Linked DNA regions of Homo sapiens. The protein of the gene in region 3 purifies or fractionates together with the protein of the main gene of each other region. This does not show direct contact. Each region holds a gene or a part of one and is shown on either strand. Other genes may lie near its edges.

Region 1 (3,650 bases), on a different chromosome or scaffold from region 3:
GCCGACATCGTCATTTCAAAGTACTGGCCTCCAAGCCTGTGGGTGAATAAAGCTTCTGTTGCTTTAAGCTGCCTGGTTTGTGGTGCTTTGTGAGAAGTGCTAGAAAACCCTTAAAGTAACTAATGCCTTTGCAGGACACCCAGCACATAACAATACTTAATAAACAGCAGCGGTTATTGTTTGCGTTTATAATACGCATCTGTGTGTAAGACACTACCCAGAGTGTTACAAGGATCAGTGGACCTCCTCCTTCTCTAAGCTCATAGTCTCTTTGGGCAGATATGCAGACAAATAACTAGAATACAGAGCTGCCCAAGACATGTGAGTGGTATAATAAGTAATATGGGAGTTAAAGAAAAGAGGGAACAGTTTCAAAATATGTAGCCTGGTAAAGTGGATATAGCAGCAACTAGGCATCTTGTCACATCTCAGAGCTCTTTAATTTTAACACAGCAACTTCCAAAGTGTTGTGTCTTGACTCCTGGCAGTCCCTAACACCCTTTCAGGAGGTCCATGAGGTTAAAACTATTCTCATGATAATACTAAGACATTATCATTCTCAATCTCTAATAGACAGCGGAGTTTTCCAGAGGCTATATGACATCCCTTCTATTAAGCCAAATATTAAGGAGATTTGCAAAAATGAAAAACAATATCACTCTTCTCATTACATTTTTTCACTTTAGAAAATGTTTTTTAATATATATATTATTCATATTAGTATTTAATTATTATATTATTTTAATAAATTAGTAAATGAACATTTCAAAATGTGTCTGGTTTTCATTTCTAGTTTGGTAAATAGTGATAGATATAATCTACATTTTTTTTAAAGAAACAGTTCTTTGGGGTCCTCGGTAATTTTTAAGAGTGTAACAGGGTCCTCAGATTTAAAAAGCTTCACTGTTCTAATAAAGGTCTACCTACCTATTTAGTCTGGTAGTTACTGATCGACTCCAAAGACAATTAGGTAAATTCAGGCAGTCAGGGCTTCCCTTTCTGGGAGCAGAGCTGAACTACATGAACTCCTGAGGTTCTGCCTAAGCCAGGACAGCATGTTTCTAAGGGAAATGAATTGATATTACTACCCCGGGGTGAGCAGTACAGGGATTAAACTCGAAGTGTTCCCCCAAAGCCTCAGGCGCACACACACAGACACAAGGGCCGAATGTGACATTGAAGGTCTTCAGGTAGGACATGCACCCTGGCATTAGAAAGTAAGCTCCACTGCTTAAGATAGAGGACTCCCTTTGGCCAGTACCCAAACGTGTGTCAAGAGTCAAAGGCATGATGAATAGGATTGCAATTTGCACCTTATACCTGGACACAAATTCAGAATGCAAAGACGAGAATAAGATGGAGGAGAGGACTCCTGGTCTTTAAACATTTCTTCAGAATTCTCCCTTTTATGGGATATATGGCTTGTGTGTAGGATGGACTTAAATCGATTATATCTCAGAGTCTGAAAAAGCGAGTTCATTATCCAAAAATAATGTTTTATTGACTCTGTTCATGCTCACTGGTCATTTCCATGGGCTTCCTCCTTCTCCATATGTCCCTGATAAGTACAGCCATGCGCTCAGGCCAGTTCCCATTGCAAATATACCACGAGGCCCCCTGAAGTCAGGTGGGCCTCTCACTTTTCTTTAAAGCCCACAACCTTACTCCTTCTCCCCTCAGGGCAGGGGCAAGGGCCTACAGGTGACATCACACCCCAGGGAAAGGTGACTGGCATTAGGTGTATACTGAGGTCAGCAGGGTATACTGAGGCAAAAATGAAAGCCTGTTGAGTGTTTCACCCAGTGTGCCTGCCACTGGGAAAACATAAAGAAACTCTTCACAAAAGGTTTGGGGAATCTGTGGACAGACTTTCAGAATAGGAAACCTGGCTTCCTTCCACAGCACATTTAATATTAGTAATGCCAAGTTCATCTACAAGTAAAACTCAACATGTACAAGAAGTAATGAGTTATTTCTTCACCAAATAGAGAAGCCTAAACCCAGATCCCTGAAAGCTTCTTAACACTTCCACCAGTGGAGAGCTAATCGCACTGATAATAATATGAAAACACACAAACTGCTTTAACAAACACAAGTAGCTCCTCCAAGCACGTATTTATTATCCTCCAAGAGAAACTAGAATAATTTTGCATAGTCAATAACAAACTATACTTTTAGTGATTTCCTTTGTATAGAAAGATGGTGTTTAAGATCTTAATGTGCTGAGGGAGTTTGGCTGCAAACACCTACAAATGGATCTTAGGAGTGGATCAAATGGTGAGGAGATGTTCATTTTACCATTTTATTTCACTAAAGCATTATTCATTCACTTGTCACAACATTTTGAGATACATTTAGTCTAAATGATTGTGGATACAAGATCATTGTGGCTTTTAGTGTAGTTAATTACACAATACAATTAATGCTGTGTTGCAATTCAAGGCTTAGATCCAGGTCCCTGTTGGAGATGTAAATCAGTGCACATCTGACATCCTAACATCTCTGGGGCTTTCTCTCACCATTGGCGGACCTTCCCTTTGAGTGAGTCCCTTCCTTTGCATGCTAATCCTCAGTGCATGAACGCAAAGAGATCTGCCTTCCTGTTCCTATGCTGACTGGCTCCTTTCTCAGAAAATTCTCCTTCATGTCTGGGAAGGTCATACAGCCCTTAGTATCTGGGGTCCCAGTGGCAAGAGCATTGTTTGATGCTGGCTAAAGGAAACAGAAAAGGTCTGTACATGGAAAAGGTTGTAGTTGCAAAAAATCACCCACTAAGTAATCAATCAAATACTGCCCGGTAAATCTGATCAGTGGCTCTGTGATTAGTCCCAAGTGACCTAAAAACACTATAAAGTTGATCTGGTCTGAGGTAGCTCAAAAGATGACTTTGGCCACAGTTGCCACATGACTGTGTTGCAAGACAATCAAAGCATTTAAACAAACCTCAGCAATGTTAACAATACATGACCTGGAAAAAATACAAACTTCCTACACAGACCATTTTGCATGATCAAATGCTATAAAATTGCAAGTACCAGAGTAGAGATTAGCAATTCCTATATAATAAATTTAATGTGCCTAATGACTTCTGTTGAAAGTGCTAAAATTGCTACAAATTTTTTTTCATTCTGTTGCCTTGTCACAAGGGTCTTCTTCCATTTCTGTGAAAACCCTGTAACCATTTTAACAAGGAGAACTTCGTTTATAGTTGCAATGTAGAAAACGCTACATCTTTCAGCACTTAAAAGTTTAAAAGGAACTTTATTTTAACCATAGGAAAGTGAGATAGATGGAAGTTCAAGCAGTAATACAAATGCAGTTTTAAGAACTTATTTCCAAGTACCTTGCTTTCGCAATCTGTGCAAATTATAAACCTTGAAAGTGGGACAAGATCTTGGAGAGGATCTAGGCTGGCCACACCTCTTCATTTTACAGATGAGGAAAATGAGGCAGACAAAGATGAAGTGAGTCTCCCAGGCCACCCACGCAGGGAGTGAGAGTGGCAAAACCAGACCTAGAATTCATTGCTTCTAGCTCCCAGCCTGGCACTTCCCCGCCACACCTGATCACCTGCTTTCTTGTTAATTGCATCTTTGCTGGCATTTGTTCTCTCAGAAGTCTCTCGAGTTCCAAAAATCCTGCATGTCCTG
Region 2 (3,650 bases), on a different chromosome or scaffold from region 3:
AGGGCAGACACGCAAAGTCAGCTACATGGGCTGTCGCTCTCAAAAAAGACCCAGAAAACACCATCCCTGCTTATGGCCAATAGGAAGGTTCACTAGGACCTTGGCCAAAGAGCTGTAAAATGAACCTAAGTTCAAGACTGGCTGAAGAAAGTTCATTTGTTTAACTACTGTATACAGTGCAAATAAGGAGGGGGAAGGCTGTGGGGCAGACCCTTCTGGGGCTGTAAAGAAGCATAATTATCAGGCAGAGATAAACCCCCTTTTTAACAACAATTCAAGAGAGTTTATAGCTTCACACATTTATCAAATTTCTCTCTAATGAACAAAAGGTTAATAGAAATAGTTTTAATAAACTAAAGTTAAAACACAGAAATTATAGGTTATTAAATAATGAAGAGGAAACTATTTTGTAATTATAAACTCACATAGGAGTTAAACAAAGACAAACAAAAACATGAACAAATTGTGGTATTGTACCTTCTGAAGACATGCGTTTAGGCATAGTAGAGACAGGAGCTGGAGAACCATGAGCAGAGGGGTGAGACGGGGGTCTGGATGGCCGCGAGGGGGGCCTGGAGGGCGGCCGTGTAGGGGTGGCTGCCCGAGGTGGAAGAGAGTTGGGACCTGACTGGTAGCGAGAAGGTGGGCGAGAGGAAGGAGATGGGCAAGGCGATGGCCAGGGAACACCTGACAGAACAAATGATATGAAGGAAAGTATAAAAACTAAAGAAAAAAATGAGGGAAAAAAGTAAACAGAAAAAAAGTAAAATGACAAAAATGATTTCTTGTACATTTTAACCCTTTGAGGACAGTCATTTGATTTGTGATAAGTTTTAGCATAACTTAACTGACATAAATTCACATTTTACTTTAACCTCCTTAAGATTAAGTCTGTTTAAATGAATACACGTTCCCAAAGGGTTAATTAGGATCTATACACACTATTGAAGAAGACAGTTAAGACTTTGCCTATTAATCCTGCTTCTATAACTGTTTCTCAGTAACTGGTTGTTTAAAGGAATATAACATACACTAGATAATTTCACATAATAAATCACAATAATTCCTACTCAGGAGTAAGATTATTTACTGTATTAGTTTTAACTCTGAGGCATAACGAAAATAAGCAGTAGCTATTATATCCAATTAGAAATGCTGGTTCCTTACAATTATCTATGATTTTCATCAGGTTTACACTTGAACCCAGAACTCAGTTTGGAATCTTATTAAGCAAGTCCCATTTAAGTAGAAATAAAACATTACTCTTCTAGAGTTTGTGACTCCTGTGAGTATCAAATGATAATATTCATTGCTATTTCAAAAAAAAAGTCTTGACCTCATTAAACTAGAAAAAGGGAGACCTTCTAAATAATTTATACAGTTAAACACTTATCTAAGCGACTGCTTAATAAATACTGCAACTACAAAGCAGTCATCACCAAATAAATTTATACTGATGGATATGCCTAGGTAAAGATACAGCTAGTATTTAACATTACATATCACTTACCTTAATCTTATCAAACAGTCCAGGTCTCCTCTCCATAGGGTTCCACACACTTAAGTATCATATATTTCTCAGCCCCCTTCAGGTTTTTTAACTTTAAAATTCTGTTTATAAACAACTAAAATCTTTCCTCAGTGAGCAAAGAAATTTCACCCCCAATATTAAGTACTGAAAATACTCAAGAGTGTCCATTTGGAGAGGAATTCTGGAGAAAAGACTCAATGAAAACAAATGAAATTGGAAACTTAGTGTTCTCTATTTTCATCTAACTTTCCAAATTTAAATAGCTAAAATTGAATGTCCACTCTTTTCCCACAAAGTTAGTAACATACTATTGCTATTACTATTTCCATACCATCCATAGAACTGTTGTTCAGTATCCCTGATTTATGGAAAAGATCCACAACCTACAAGATATATTCAACCTAGATTTAGAGGTAGAGTAAAAAATGTCTTCCTACTAAAGATTCAGGTTTCTTTTACTTAAGTTGCTAAACTGTAACATCCACCCTTAGACTAAGGGTTGTTTTTGTTGTTTTTTAAGCAAATTTCTCTAGTCACTTTCTTCACATGACTCTTGATCATGTCTTGTATTATAAGTTACCTCAGATCCTTTCTTGAAGTAAGCATAATATAGAAACAAATAATGAAAATTGATCTATATTAACCACAGTGTTGCACATAGGTTAGAATTTTCCATATAAATTATGTCTAAAAAATTTTATTATCCAGTGTTTTTAAAATTGAGAACCTACCCAAAGTTTCCAATTTCTTTATATGTGAAGTGTTTTTGGCCAAGTGATTGTCTTGGGTTAAATGTAGCACTTTATCTTAGTACATCATGAATATTTCATCATGCTAAATAATATATATGTCAATGACATATACAATGTTTTACTAATTTAATATCCACAAAAGCCAATTTTAAGTAATGCTGAAGTGAAAGCTACTCACCAAATCATTAAAGTGCACATTCATATCAGTTATGTAAACTATTTTAAGTATTTTAAGTATTTAGAAAACTATTTTATCAATGATATTGACAAGTCTGGTCAAAATACTTGCCTCCATTAACTACTCTTTGGTCTGAACCAGAATTCGGGTTGAAATCTGAAGTGTGAGAAGTGGATCTTGATGGCATGGAGCCCGATCCAGGCTGGCCCATACGCGGTGAATTCTGTCTCCCACTTCCCCAGGATATGACTTCTCTATTTCTTTGTCCAGGAGGAATATATTTATTTTCCCTGAAAATGAGAGATCCTCTAAATCATTTTATTCTAAAAGGTACCAAGCCAATGAAACATATCTAAAAGTCATCTAGACAGAAGGGAATGCTTGTTACAAAAAGGTTCTACACTAAACCAAACTGCCTCACTCCCAGATGCCCCTGTTCTTCCATCTTACCCTGAGTTCTAACCTCTGGACTGTCCCTTCCCTTAGATTCTGCTCCTAAGCACAAAGTTTAACAGATGCGTGCTCATTCTCATCCCACTTGACCTCTCTATGGCTGATTCCATCAATCTTGGTCTATCTTCACAACATTTTTTGTCCTTCACTTTCTCAATTTTATTTTCTCTGAGATCTCTTCTCTCACTGGCTGTTCTTTGGTTTTTCATGGCTCCAATATCGGCAATGCTGATGAAACCTCAAACTGAACCGCCAGTCTCACAGTGTCAACATCTATCAGTGGACATGTCAATTCAAATCACCAGACTCTAAGCTGACTGCCTTTAAGAGAGGATGCATCTCTTACTTTACTAGATAGGTAGCAGGTATTTCTCAACACGTTTATGAATAAATGAAAGACCCACAAGCCCACATATGCAATTAGCTGCACAAACGGAGTCACTGTTTTTCCCCTCAAACTTGCTCCATGTTTCCTCTCTCTCTTACCAGTACATCCATTAAGTCACTTAGTTATCAAATAAACCTCAGGCTCATCCCTTAACTAGGTGGTTACCAAATTCTCACAGTTGAACTATTTCAGTGCACTAACTGTTCTCTGTGTCTCAGCCAGTCCTCAATGCCCCAGGGTTTATTCACCCCATCTCCTTCCAACAGGGTGCTCTTTAGCATGACATGCCAAGTCCTTTAATGACCTCAGTTCCTACTATCAACTGCCACTGCTGCACCTGACACAGAT
Region 3 (4,116 bases):
GAGCTGGTCAGCAGTGCAGCATCGCAGGCCCCAACCCGACCCACACAGAATCACAGTGTGAACATTAAAAGTCAGGCCACTTGAGTGCAGTTTGAAAAGCGCTGCCCTGCTCTGCTTTCTTCTAGCTGACCAGGTCCCAGGCCTCAGCTGGTGGCAGGTATGAGAAGCTGAAGGACACAGCAAAGGCTCCTGTCTCAGGAGGTTTGCACCTGGGGCACTGGCACCTCTATCCCCAAAGGCTTCTGCAGAGGTAGTTTAGGAAAGATGGTTAGAGGCATGGGATTTCGAAGCCAGCCTCCCTTGGACTCAAACCCCAGATTGGACATTTCCTAGCTGTGTGATCTTGGGCCTAGTTAACCTCTCTGTGCCTGGATTAAATAAAAAATGCAGATAATGTGTTTAGAACGGTGCCTGGCACAGAAACATCAACACTCCATTAGCTGCAGCTAGTAATGCTAATAATTATAACTGTCATCTGTCCCTCCCACAAGAGGGCAGGGAGCTGGCTCTGGTCACAGTGGCTCTGAGATTCACACTCCTTCCCACTTCTCCTGCCAGCTCACACAAGTTCCTCCTCACAATCATACAAGATTTGTCACGCCTCAAACACATGGCAGGTAACATTCTACCTTCACTCTCAAGCATCACCTTGTGGCCTTGGGACTCAGGACACGGGACACCCACATAAGCAGCTGATGTTCCATCCTCCAGGTGTGGACACTGAGGTCCCAATAGGGAAAATGATCTGCCAGCTTGAATCAGATGGGAGGACTGAGCAAGGCCAAAAAATGGGGATAATAATATGAGCCCCTCCCTTGATGGGCTGTTACAGAAGAACTGCAAGGATCCAATGGGTGTCTGCAACAAGTGCTCTAGAAGTGGGCCCTGCTGTTCTCTCCATAACTCCCAACATGTTCGCAATCAAGGAGCCTTTTTTTTTTTTTTTTTTTTTTTGAGACAGCGTCTCACTCTGTCACCCAGGCTGGAGTGCAATGGCGAGATCTCGGCTCACTGCAAGCTCCACCTCCTGGGTTTATGCCATTCTCCTGCCTCAGCCTTCTGCGTAGCTGGGACTACAGGCGCCCGCCACCATGCCCAGCTAATTTTTTATATTTTTAGTAGAAATGGGGTTTTGCCATGTTGGCCAGGCTGGTCTCGAACTCCTGGCCTCATGATCCACCCACCTTTGCCTCCCAAAGTGCTGGGATTATAGGCGTGAGCCACTGCACCCCGCCAATCAAAGAGCTTTGCTATTGCCATAGGATTCACATCAGGGTACAGTGGGTCCCCAGCCCAAGGGCAGAGGGAGCCCAGAGCATTTAATAAAAAGACTGCAAAGGGGAGGCGCCAATCATGGGCCCCAGCTCCAGTAAGACGTGAAGGAGGCAGGGGTGGGGGTAGGAGGGCTTGTACAGCACCTCAGTGCTTCCAGCTTCTGACGGGGAGTAGCTGAGCATTTTCCCTGGGCTGGGGGCATCAGTAGTGGGGGCCAGGCCTCACCCTCCTCAGAAGGTAGGTGGGCTCTCCACAGCCTGTCTCCCTCACTGACACATGCACACTCACTGGATTCTCACCGGCACTTTTGTGATAGCTGTCATCATCATTCACACCTATTTCTTTTCTTTTCTTTTTCTTCTCTTTTTTTTGAGACAGGGTCTCGCTCTGTCTCCCAGGCTGAAGTGCAGTGGCACCATCACACCTCACTGCAGCCTCAACCTCCTGGGCTCAAGCGATCCTCCCGCCTCAGCCTCCTGAGTAGCTGGGACTACGGGAGTGCACCACCACACACACTTCCCCTAACTTTTTTTATTTTTTGGAGAGACGGGGTCTAGTTTTGTTGTCCAGGCTAGTCTCAAACTCCTGGACTCAAATGATCCTCCCGCCTCAGCCTCACAAAGTGCTGGGATTACAGGCGTGAGCCAACCTCCTGGGCCACTCACACCTATTTCTTAGAAGGGTAAGTTGAGGCTGACTGCAGCTGACTCCTTCCCCAACCACTCTCACACCCTACTGGCTGACTCACCCTGCTTGGCAGACTCCTGGGCCCCTCCTCTCGGACTCTGCGACAGGCCAAGGGGGTCCAGACCCTCCCTGACCCCAACAGTCCCAAGACGCCACAGCTGGTGGGCGGAGAAACAAGGGGATTCTCCCCTGGGGCCAGTGGCCATGGCTTGGCCTCGAGTGAACCCTGCTAGGGCCCCAAACCCAGGGCCTACCTAGCTCCTGTTCTTCCCGCGCGGGGGAAGGGGGGTGCTCTGCTCCCCTCCCTCCCCTTTCTGGCAGGGCTCACGGTTCTTCCCCGGGGCGCATCCACAAACCTGAGCTCCTTGGCGCTCACCACCATAACGCTGGCGTACAAAGCTGCTTCCATTCACTGAGCACTCAGTAGGCGCCGGGCACAGCACTAGGTGCCTATCCGGCGTAGACATCGGGCCTGATCATACAGCTGAGCTTCAGAGACCTCAAGTCCCTGCCCAGGCCCACACAGCGCTCAGCGGTGCTAGGATGCCCACTTGACAGACAGCGAAACTGAGACCCAGAGGGGTCAAGTCAGGGGCAGAAGCAGACTCTGGAGGCCTCCGGGTTCTGGACCTTCTCTGCCCCATTGTCCCTGATTAGCCCGCAAGCAAGCCACGGCCTAAGCCGAAGGAAGAACTCGCCTGCAGGAGCCCCCGTTCGTTCCCAGGGTTTGGACGCCCCGGGCTGGGCCCCGCTAAGCCCCTCGGGCCGCCCAGGCGCCGGACCCCCGTCCCCGGAGCCCCCGCGCGCGCTCACTTTGGGCTTGTCGAAGGCGGGCGTCTGGGCCATGGTGCCCTCGTGCGCCCCGGCGCTGCTCCCTCCGCCGCCGCTCGGTGGGTCTCTGCCGGCTCGGTGGCCGCTCGGCTTTCCCTGGGGCCAGCGGTGGCCGCGGCCGGCCACGCTCTTCTTAACGGGCCGGGCCCCGCCTCCCGCCCCGCCCGCCGCCGTTCCCGGGGCCCGCCCTCTCGCCGGAGCCCCCGCCCCGCCCGCCGGCCTGGATCGCGCATTTCCTGGAATTCTGGACCCGGCGTCCTCGCCCGCCGACCCGAAAACTACGGCCCCGCGGCGCCCGACCGGACCCACCTGTGGGCGCGCGCTCCAGCCGCCTCGCTGGGCGCTGCCTTCCCCCCGGCTCCTCCAGCAACTTTCAAGCGTCCCCCTGCAGTCTGGGCGCTGCTGTGCGCCAGGCCCAAGCTAGAAGCGGGGACCCCGGGAGCATCGCAAGCCTCGAGCGGCGTGCCTTCCACCGGATAGACGGACGCTCGTCGCAGAAACACACACCATAATTGTATAGTTAAGGAACTTTCGAGGGGGGCCAGCCGTGGCCTGCAGAACCTGCAGGAGTTCATCAGGGGTGGGTGGGGGTGGAGAGGACATTCTACGTGAGAGACTCCAGGGAGCTGGGAGTGAAAGGAGGCGAGGAAGGCTGGAGCTCGGAGGGAGGGAGAACACAGACAGTCCCCTCCTGGGCATTCACCTTTAAGAAACCCGCCCAGGCGCAGCCAGAGACCTGTGCAGAATGTTCACACCAGCGCTATTCCGAATAACAGGAACATTGGAAACACCCTCAAATGCCCCTCCACGGGCGAGTGGGCAAATAAACCGGAATATTCACACCATGAAACGTTAGACAGCAGTGAAACGGAATGAACTTCAGCCAGACAACAACAGAAACAATGTCTCAGAAACAATGTTGAGTGAAAAAAACTAAGTTGCGGAAAACTGCATACAATGGTGCAACTTTTAGAATGTGTAAAAGCAAAACCAAAAGTATGTATGTTTAGACACATGCATCGGTGGAAAAAATGTAAAGCAAGGGAAAGATGAGCATAGATACGAGAAGAGTGGTTATCTCAGGTGAAAGGGAAGGAGCCGGGAGGAGGTAAGGACGGAGGGAAATAACACGCGGGTACAGGTTATTTATTTATTTATTTATTTATTTATTTATTTATTTATTTATTTACTGAGACGGAGTTTCGCTCTTTCGCGGAGGCTGCAGTGAAGTGGCGCGATCTGGGCTCACTGCAACCTCTGCCCCTCTGGCCCGCCTCCTCCCCACCGCTCCCCCGCACCCCCAGCGTTTCAAGCGATTTTCCT
Region 4 (3,650 bases), on a different chromosome or scaffold from region 3:
GGAGTAGGGATGGCGACCCTGGACACCCAGAGAAAAATGAGCAAAAACTATGTTCTACCTGGAAACCTGTCTTCACTTAGTGACCCCATATCACCAACACATCACCTGGAGAGCACCAAGATACTCACGTATAAGAAGAAAGACTGCTATCATAGGTAGTCTTCACACCGTAGTTCTCCTCATTGAACTTGAACATTTCATTGGGGTCCCATCCATTGGACTGGGGAGGGAGGAAGGTGGTTTTAAAACCCAGCAGGAAAAGCAACGACAAGTCACTTCCCTTCCATCAGGTTAAAAACTCCAAGATGTGAACAAATTGGCTGGGCACAGTGGCTGAAACCTGTAATCCCAGTACTTTGGGAAGCTGAGGCAGGAGGCTCTCCTGAGGCCAGGAGTTTAAGGCCAGACTGGGCAACACAGCAAGAGCTCATCTCTAGAAAAAAATAATGAAACAGCCGGGTGTGGTGGTGCATGCCTGGGGTCCTAGCTACTCGCTACTCAGGAGATTGAGGAGAGAGGATCACTTGAGCCCAGGAGTTTGAGGCTGCAGTGAATTATTATGGCACCACTGCGCTCTGGCCTGGGCGACTAGCTGGGCGTGGTGGCTCATGCCTGTAATCCCAGCACTTTGGGAGGTGGGTGGATCACCTGAGGTCAGGAGATCAACCTGACCAACATGGTGAAACCCCGTCTCTACTAAAAATAAAAAATTAGCCATCCGTGGTGGCGCATGCCTGCAGTCCTGGCTGAGGCAGAAGAATCGCTTGAACCTGGGAGGCAGAGGTTGCAGTGAGCTGAGATCGAGCCACTGCACTCCAGCCTCCAGCCTGAGTGACAGAGTGAGACCCTGTCTCCAAAAAAAACAAAAACAAAAACAAAAACAAACAACTACAACAAAAACCCGGGCAACAGAGCAAGCTCGTCTCAAAAATAAACGACAAAACAAGAGTGGAAAAAAAATTGGAACGTGGCTGGCAAAAGTAATCAACTAATAATTGTAATTAATAACTGCAATTTTTTTTTTTTTTTTGGAGACAAAGAGTTTCACTCTTGTTGCCCAGGCTGGAGTGCAATGGTGCGATCTTGGCTCACCGCAACCTCCGTCTCCTTGGGTTCAAGCGATTCTCCTGCCTCAACCTCACGAGTAGCTGGGATTACGGGCATGTGCCACCACGCCCAGCTAATTTTGTATTTTTAGTAGAGATGGGGCTTCTCCACGTTGGTCAGGCTAGTTCCAAACTCCCAACCTCAGGTGATCTGCCCGCCTTGGCCTCCCAAAGTGCTGGGATTACTGGTGTGAGCCACCGCGCCCGGCCTGCAACTGTTAATGATTACTAACAACTGCAGCAGAAATTATCAATAACTAGTAAACCTGAAAAGTCATAAGACCTAACAATTCTATTTCCAAGACATCCCAGAAAAATTCTGGCACATGTGCGTGGGGAATATATGTTCTAAAAGTCCAGCAAGGTACTATTTTTAGTAGCAAAATAATGGCAACCAAATGCAGATGATTAAGGAAAAGGACAAATACAATTTGCTGTGTACACGTGTGTGTGTATATTTGAAAACAGCACACAACAATAGAAGCAAAGAACTAGATCTACGTACAACCATGAGAAGTTCGAAAAGGCAAGAAAAGCAAATTCTTGTACAAACTAAACATAACAAAACAATAATATATTCATTCACAAGACATTTGTTTCTCAACAGATAGTCTCGCTATGATGCCCAGGCTGGAGCACAGTGGCCATTCACAAGTTGAGTCATAGTGCACCAAAGCTTCAAATGATTCTCCTACCTCAGCCTCCTGAGTAGCTGGGACTACAGGTGTGGGACCACCACGCTCAGCTCTATTCATGAGCGGTTTTTATTTATTTTTTTGAGACATCCTCACTGTCGCTCAGACTGGAGTCCAGTGGCACAATCTCAGCTTACAGCAGCCTCAAACTCCTGGGCTCAAGTGATCGGAGCTCCTGCCTTGGCCTCCCAAGTAGCTGGGACTACAGGCATGAGCCACTGCGCTCAGCCTCATGAGATTTTAAATGCCTCAGAGTAGCTGATTTTGGGAAGAGAAATGGGCCTACACATTAATCTATACTTTTTGTTATGTTGAAAAATAACGTGATGCAAATGCTAGGAGTGGTTAATTATAGATAGTAAGAGAGTAAGTTGATGTTTTGGTTTTGTTGCGTGTGACACGGTCCACCCAGGCTGGAGTGCAGTGGTATGATCACAGCTCACTGTAGCCTCGACCTCCCTGGGCTCAAGTGATCCTTCCACTTCAGCCTCCCAAGTAGCTGGGACTACAGGTACATGCCACCAAACCTTGATAGCTTTTATATATCTTGTTGAGACAGGGTTTCACCATGTTGCCCAGACTGGTCTCGAAATCCTTGCCTCAAGTGACCCACCGGCCTTGGCCTCCCAAAGTGCTGGGATTACAAACATGAGCCACTGCACCCAGCTAAGAATAGATATTTTTACTTTGCTATTTTCTATACCTTTCTATTTGTTATCTGACTACCATCAATGGGCAACAGTAAATATTTCCCTCCCCACTCAAATGAACCTCACTGTCAACAACCCATTCTGTCTGTCCAGCTCCCAAGTTCTCAGGGAAGGAGGCTATACCATGTCAGACTCGAGGTCATAGTCGTCGCTGTTGCTGTCACCCCCCTCCCAGCGCTGAAGCACCTTCTCTTTGTGTTCCCCATTCACTTTCGAGTTCATGGCAATGGCTGAATCGGTGAACTTGTCTGTGGGGGCAGAGGTGAAGATCAGGAGTCAGGCTATATTTCACAGACTTCTTTCCAATATCCCCCAACCCCACTCTCCGTAAGTAGTTCAGGAACAAAGTTTAAGAAGTCCAGAGTACGTGTGCCCGTGTGTTAGGATGGCCAGGGGGTGGGGAGGCAAGAGAAGAAGAGTATAAAAAGTCTATCAGTACTATGATTCCAAAGAAAAAAGAAGTTAAAAACCAAGCAAAGAAAATATGAAGAACCACAACACAGACAGGAATTCATCGCATTATATATTAGACATCAAGACATATTTTTAAGAAGAAAAATCCACCCACTTCGCTCAGGAAAAAAAAGGCATTAAAGCAAAACAAACAAACAAAAACAAAAAAACAAACCAAACACATCACCATGTTCCACCTGCACACAAACTACCCTCTGTCCTCTATGCACACAGAGCAGGTCTGAGGTAACAGCCTAGGACAATACCTTTAGTAGCATAGTTGAAGTCAACATTTCGGAAGTGAACAAGCATGACATCACTTGGCTTAAACACCATGGTGTCCACAATGTCCTCCCGACGAGGGCCACCTGCTGGCTCAGATGCTTTCCGGTGCACAGCATCCACGGCTAGTTCAAACTACAAACACCCCATTCCCCACACCCATGGGTCAGTTTCAAGAAAAGTGAAGGCAAAAATAGAACTGGATTTCTCTTAAATAGAACTGGATTTCTCTTACCCTTCCCAAACTTTTCACAACACTACATCCTCAACATGCTTGGAACCAAGTGCATTGTTTTCTCAACATCAGCCACAGGACTTAGCAAAAGTCTCACAAAAATTTAAACTTAAATATTTTAACATTAAAGTACCCAGCCCTCAAATTTGTCTTTTTTCCCTGCAGCACT

What was found.
Region 1: the proteins of ADA (region 3) and SERPINB5 fractionate together in Homo sapiens (co-fractionation; one large-scale study listed by BioGRID). This does not show direct contact.
Region 2: the proteins of ADA (region 3) and ATXN2 fractionate together in Homo sapiens (co-fractionation; one large-scale study listed by BioGRID). This does not show direct contact.
Region 4: the proteins of ADA (region 3) and ATXN2L fractionate together in Homo sapiens (co-fractionation; one large-scale study listed by BioGRID). This does not show direct contact.

What each region holds. Positions count from the first base shown.
Region 1 is NC_000018.10:63,479,917-63,483,566, reverse strand, and holds part of SERPINB5 (serpin B5), read right to left. Parts: intron 1-3,650. UniProt on the Homo sapiens protein: Tumor suppressor. It blocks the growth, invasion, and metastatic properties of mammary tumors.
Region 2 is NC_000012.12:111,515,677-111,519,326, forward strand, and holds part of ATXN2 (ataxin-2), read right to left. Parts: intron 2,752-3,650; coding exon 2,573-2,751; intron 688-2,572; coding exon 478-687; intron 1-477. UniProt on the Homo sapiens protein: Involved in EGFR trafficking, acting as negative regulator of endocytic EGFR internalization at the plasma membrane.
Region 3 is NC_000020.11:44,648,800-44,652,915, forward strand, and holds the start of ADA (adenosine deaminase), read right to left. Parts: upstream 2,901-4,116; 5' UTR 2,809-2,900; coding exon 2,776-2,808; intron 1-2,775.
Region 4 is NC_000016.10:28,825,971-28,829,620, reverse strand, and holds part of ATXN2L (ataxin-2-like protein), read right to left. Parts: intron 3,382-3,650; coding exon 3,231-3,381; intron 2,760-3,230; coding exon 2,635-2,759; intron 221-2,634; coding exon 129-220; intron 1-128. UniProt on the Homo sapiens protein: Involved in the regulation of stress granule and P-body formation.